Regions from separate parts of the Homo sapiens genome. Here region 2 is linked to region 1. The links come from fine-mapping of genetic effects on gene expression. Tissue or cell type: whole blood. Region 1 holds a variant in brackets; the other region holds the start of a gene. All regions are shown on one strand. Distances are between the middles of the regions.

Region 1 (2,760 bases):
CCAAGTCTGAGTCTCACATTCAAACTTCCAGGCAAAGGCAGGAGAGTGTGCTACCACTCCTGTTTCTCACAAAGGGAAACAAGTGACTTCACTGGGAAAGACCAGATGGTATGATGAAGGAAGCATCATAGCAAAGACATCCTCCACCCAACCCTGTCTGCTGACCACACTCAGTGATGCCCAGAGTGGCGTGGTAGGTTGGAGCTCTGCAGGGGACAGCTTTGCTCTGTGTGTGTTTGGTGGAGAGAGGAATTGTCCTGCTAGAGTTCAGAATTTTTTCCGGCAGTCTAATTTTTTAGACTGGTAAAGATTCCCCAAGCTTTTTCTAAAGCAAAAGTTCTCAGCTTTGTTCTAATCACAGATATTTTTGAAAATTCAATGACTTATCTTCTCTCTTTCCCACAGATCACAAGCCCCATGTGAGCACATTTGCTCACACACACAGACACCACCGCACACAATATGACTCTGATTTTGTCTGTTCTCTGAAGCCCCAATCAGCTTCATTCCATTGTCTTATTGTTTTTTTTAAGTCAATCTTGCTGCTCCAGCTAGGTTGAACATCGTTCCGGACATGGGGCAAAGGCTTATATTCAATGGAAGGCTGTGGGTGGGAGCACATTTCCAGACTGACACTCCCAACTCAGAGCTGTGTGTGCTACGTCTTCACCCTTTCCTGGGACGGGACCCTTTGCTGACACCTCTGATCTCTCTCTGCCTTTACTGGGCAGAAGGCAGGAGGACAGGGGAGGGCAGGGCCTCAGTGGGTGGGGCCAGACCCCTGAGCCCCAGGCTCACCCCACGCCCTCCCCCTGCCACACTAGCATGTTGCTTGGTCCCCCCTCCCATCCTCCCTTGGTGGGCATTGCTCTCACTTGCAGTGTTGGCATGGAAACTTCATGCTAGCCTGAGATGAAATCCGAGCAGAGAGGAAGGAAGGACTCAGGTTAGAAAGGGTGAGAAAGACATAGGTACACACAGAGACACTCAAGAGACACACTCAGGCTGTGCTTGAGTCACTCAGACCATCATTGGGAGGGAAGAGAAAGGAAGAGGAGAAAGCCCTAACATCAAAAGGCCCCAGCCCTGGCCTTGGTTTCTCCAACAGCATCACGGTCTCCATTCTCGCCAGGCTGTCCTGCATCCTTCCTCATTGACTTCACCCCCCAAATGTGTTGCC[C/T]TGAACCCTCAGCTCCTTCTGCCCCTCTCTGTGGCTGGGACCCCTGGCTGAGGTTCAGCTCACCCCCAAAAAGAGGCCAGTCCCTTAGGCACCATCCTCTATGTCCCATCCTGTGTCCCCTCCAAGCTGTGAGGCTTCCCCTAATCCCTGGCCCCAAAGAGGCTCTATTTTTGGTGGTCTGACTTAGGGACTGAGTGAATTCCCACTGCCACCCCAACTCCACCACCACCTTGAGTCACTTGCAGGGAGACCAACGTGGGCAGATAACCCAGCTGTGCACTCAAACAGCCAAGGGCCCAGCCCTTCCTGCGAGCCAGCCCCACAGCCACTCAGTGGCAGCCTTTCCCCTCCTCAGGGAGGGAAATCCCTCCATGCAGCCCTCCTGTGCTTGGAGCTGTGACTCTACACACTCATGAGCCCTTGGGTGAGGGTCCATGCTCAGCACAGCAGCCTGGCCGGCCCCACCCCTGCATCCTGCTAGGGTCATGAGCTGGGGAGGACCCCCTGGGCCATAGACCCCCTGCAAGCCTCCAGCACTGGCTGATGTCCCCTGGCTCTGCAAAGTAGCTGGAGGATGGCTGGCCCTAGCAGGCCTGCTTGGACATCACAGCCAGAGGTCTCTGGAGTGCCTCGGCTGCATTTAGATCTGTGGGAGACCCCAGGAGGAAGCCCACGAGGACCAGCAGGAACTGCACTGCATTTTCTCTGTGGGAATTCTCCGAGATCTCATGCAAGAAGGAGGAGGGAGCTTGGCACCCACAGGAGAGTCCTAGGGGACTGAGGTAAGGCTGTGTGAAACAGGCACCCTTCTAACCTGTAGATTTGCTGAGGCCATAATAGGCACAGTTCTGGCCAAATCTGGCTTCACCCCATCTGACTGCTACCACCGACTGCATAAGTCTGGCTGACCACCTCCCTTGAACTGTTCACACTGGGCAGGGTCAGAGAGCCAGAATACAGGCCCTTGCTGCTGCCTAGAGCAGAGAGCAGAGGGCAGAGGGCTACCTCCAGAGGACTTGCTGAGATGCGGGGGCTTTCCACAGCCTCCACCTGTGTAGCTTCCATGTGTGGTCAGATCAGCCTCTGACCATAGAAGCTTTTCCTAATTTGCACAAGGGCACTCGATGGGCTCTAGATTCTAGAGTTTCTGCTTTCTCCCTGATGCCCCATTTGGACCTGGTACTCTGTGCCTCCCTGACAAAATAGTGGGCTCCAGCCCCCTCACAGCTGCCATTCCCACCTCAGGCCTGCAGCACACAGATTGCTCTGTAAGTGGCTCTCCCAACAGCAAGAAGCCCTCTGCAAGAGTGGATGTCCCTCTGTCTTATGGTCCCCCAGAAACATGGGAGGGCAGCCACCCCAGCTCCTGGGGAGGAAGATGGCAGGGCTGCTCTACACAAGCTGAGATGAGTTATTTTGGAGAGAGCTGAAGGCACGGCCTAGCTTTGCCCCATCTCACTTGGAATCTGACCTGCTGAGAGCCCATCCCCGGCATCCAGGCCTCTTTGAGCTGTCCACCTGTTGGGTCCACCCTTGATGGGGGACTGGCACTCTTTGCCACCCTTATTTGGGCAGAATCA
Region 2 (2,760 bases), 36 kb before region 1:
AAATCCATGAACCACTGAGACGTGCAACAATACGGATGAATCCTGAATGCATTATGCTAAATAAAAGAAGCCAATTAAAAAGGCCATGTAGTCATAAGAGAATGTGAACAAAAAAAAAAAAGAGTCCATGTCGTATATGATTTTATTCAGATGACATTCTAGAAAAGGCAAATTTTTAGCAACAGAGAACAGCTCAGTGGTTGCCCAGAGCTGGGGACGGGGTGAGAGGAGACTGGTCATAATAAGGCACAAGGGGACTTTTAGGGGTTTTGAAAAATCTTCTTTATCATGACTGTGTTGGTGGTTCCACAAATGTACATGTGTCAAACTTCTTTAAATTGTGCATTTAAAATTGCTGAAGTCTGTGTGCATAAAAGACACCTCAGTAAAGCCCATTTAAAAAACAACACATGCAAAGTGCCTTGGCCAAGCCACCCAGACCCACCATCCTCTTCAACATTTGTGACCTGTCTTCACCTTCCCGAGGGGGCATCTCACTATCTCCTTCAACACTTACTGTGTCCCTCTTGCCATGGAAGTGCTTGCCAAGTTTAATATTCAAAACAACCCTAAGAAATTATATTGTTAGGATTCCCATTCAACAGAGTAGGAAAGAGAGGCATGGAGTTTGAATGAGTGGTGGAGCCATTGGGCCCCCAGAGCTGGTGTGACACTTAGGTGCTGCCCACAGACACGTCCCCGCGGTCTTCAAATTGATGTTCTAGATTAACTTTCATCATTTTGTTATAAAGGAATTTTTTATTTCACTGCTGAAATCACAGGATGGACGTGTTGTTTTCTCAAATACACATTAAAATAAATACATAATTATAAACATTTTACATTTTCATTCTCATATCCCCTGAAAACACCTTATATACTCATAACAGCCTCAGTCACACCAAGTGTCCCATAAATATCAATTTCCTTTCCCTCCACATCTATGTTTATGGTCAACACAACCATTTGGTAACAGTATCAGGAGGCAACCTGGCACTGTCCCTTCCCATCAGGGCTTCCTTCCCAGGGAGCACAGCTGGCTGACCTTCCAGGCCTTTCTTTTCACCTACCTGGCCAGAACACTTCCACACTCTCCTCAGTGGACTCAGGGCTGGTCAAGCTGAGGGTGGTCCCATCGGTGGGTGACTGTTCTCCCCTGTGATCTGTGAAGTAGCATTTCATGATTTGAAATGAGTGCCCAGGGTGTCGGTGCTCCAGCTGTTCAGTGAGAGTTGGCTGGGGCTGTACTGAAGGCCTCCAGCTGGCCCCAGCCAGAGTGGACACTGAGCTCCCCATGGTCGCTAAGATCCTAGCTCTACTGTGTGACCTCATCGATGGCACTGGTCTGTTCTGTGACCCATGGCGAGGGCAGAGGCTGAGGCTGGATACCAGGAGAGGCTTCCCAACATGTTCTCATTTCCCCATGGGAACTCCTTTTCTGTCTTGTGTATTATCATGGACACACAGAAACACAAAACACACATACTCTTAACTCCTTAGACACACATAAAAACACAAACACATAAACACAGAGACACTTGTATACACTTAAGCATGCATGGAACCGCTGTCTTAGTCCATCTGTGTGGCTTACAAAGGGATACCTGAGGTTGGGTAATTTATAAAAGAAAGAAGTGTATTGGGCTCATGTTTCTGCAGCCTGTACACAAAGCATAGTGCCAGCATCTGCTTCTGGTGAGGGCCTTAGGAAGCTTCCATTCTCAGCAAATGGGGAAGGGGAGCAGGTGTGTTTAGATCACATGGGTAAGAGAGGAAGGAAGAAAGAGTGGAGGAAGTGACAGGCTCTTTTCAACACTCAGTTCTCACAGAACTAAGAGTGAGAACTCTTTACCACGAGGGTGGCACTGAGCCCTTCATGAGGGATTTGTCCCCGTCACCCAAACACCTCCCTCTACGCCCACCTCTCACATTGGATATCAAATTTCAACATGAGATTTGAAGGGGACACATGTCCATACTATGTCACTCACACACAAAGAAACGCATACATGATCACTCAGACACACATATACGCTGGAACACATATGGCACACACAGTAACATAAACATATGTACGTGTGTTCACATAGACACATAACATGCTCACACATACAAATTCACACACATATTTACTTAACCACACACACATACATGCACACAAATTCATGCCAGATTAATTAACCATACATAGGCTCACATACATACAGTCAGCAGCCAACATAAAATGACCCTGCTTCCCAGTGTGGAAAATCTCTCCTTCTCTCCCCCATCTTACGTCCCCACGCTGACCCTGTTTAGCTCCTCAACCCTCCACAACCCCACCCCACCCCTCCCCTCCCCTCTCCTCTACTCACTCCCTTGCTCAGTTCCTGTGACTCCAGACACTTCACTGCTCCCGGACATGCCCGGCATCCTCCCCTCACGGGCTCTGGGCTCTCGCACTTGCTCTTCCTTGTGCCTGTTCCAGGCTTTCCCCTAGGTTCCTGTGTGGCTCTCTCTCCTTCCGGTCTCCTCTGAAACATCACCTGGTCAGAGGAGCCTGCCTGGCACCCCCAGGAAAAGAGCTTTCTTTGGCCCTACAACTCTCTGTCACCTTACCCTGCTTTATTTTTCCATGATAGCATTTACCACCCTAGGCTGTATATAATGTCTGTGTGTGTATCTCATGGGTTTACCTGTATCTGTCTTCTCCTCCTTAGATGTAAGCTTAGGCAGGTAGGGACTTCCTTCGTTCCATCCACCTCATTATATCTCTAGTGT

What was found. PIP is the estimated chance that this variant, and not a neighbour inherited with it, causes the effect.
Region 2: FAM170B starts here. The variant in region 1 is the best candidate, but not a certain one, in a credible set for the expression of FAM170B in whole blood (TOPMed, PIP 0.57).

The regions. Positions count from the first base shown.
Region 1 is chr10:49,169,192-49,171,951 of GRCh38, forward strand. All of the region lies in intron 1 of TMEM273 (transmembrane protein 273), which reads right to left. Among named protein-coding and RNA genes, the nearest start is that of TMEM273, 18 kb to the right of the region's middle. RefSeq lists an enhancer at 1,611-2,110. The variant C/T (reference allele first, on the strand shown) is at 1,181.
Region 2 is chr10:49,132,737-49,135,496 of GRCh38, forward strand. FAM170B (family with sequence similarity 170 member B) reads right to left here and starts at 1,285. Exons shown (of 2, transcript NM_001164484.2): 1 at 1,071-1,285. The coding sequence starts at 1,182. The region is part of intron 1 of FAM170B-AS1 (FAM170B antisense RNA 1); the gene reads left to right.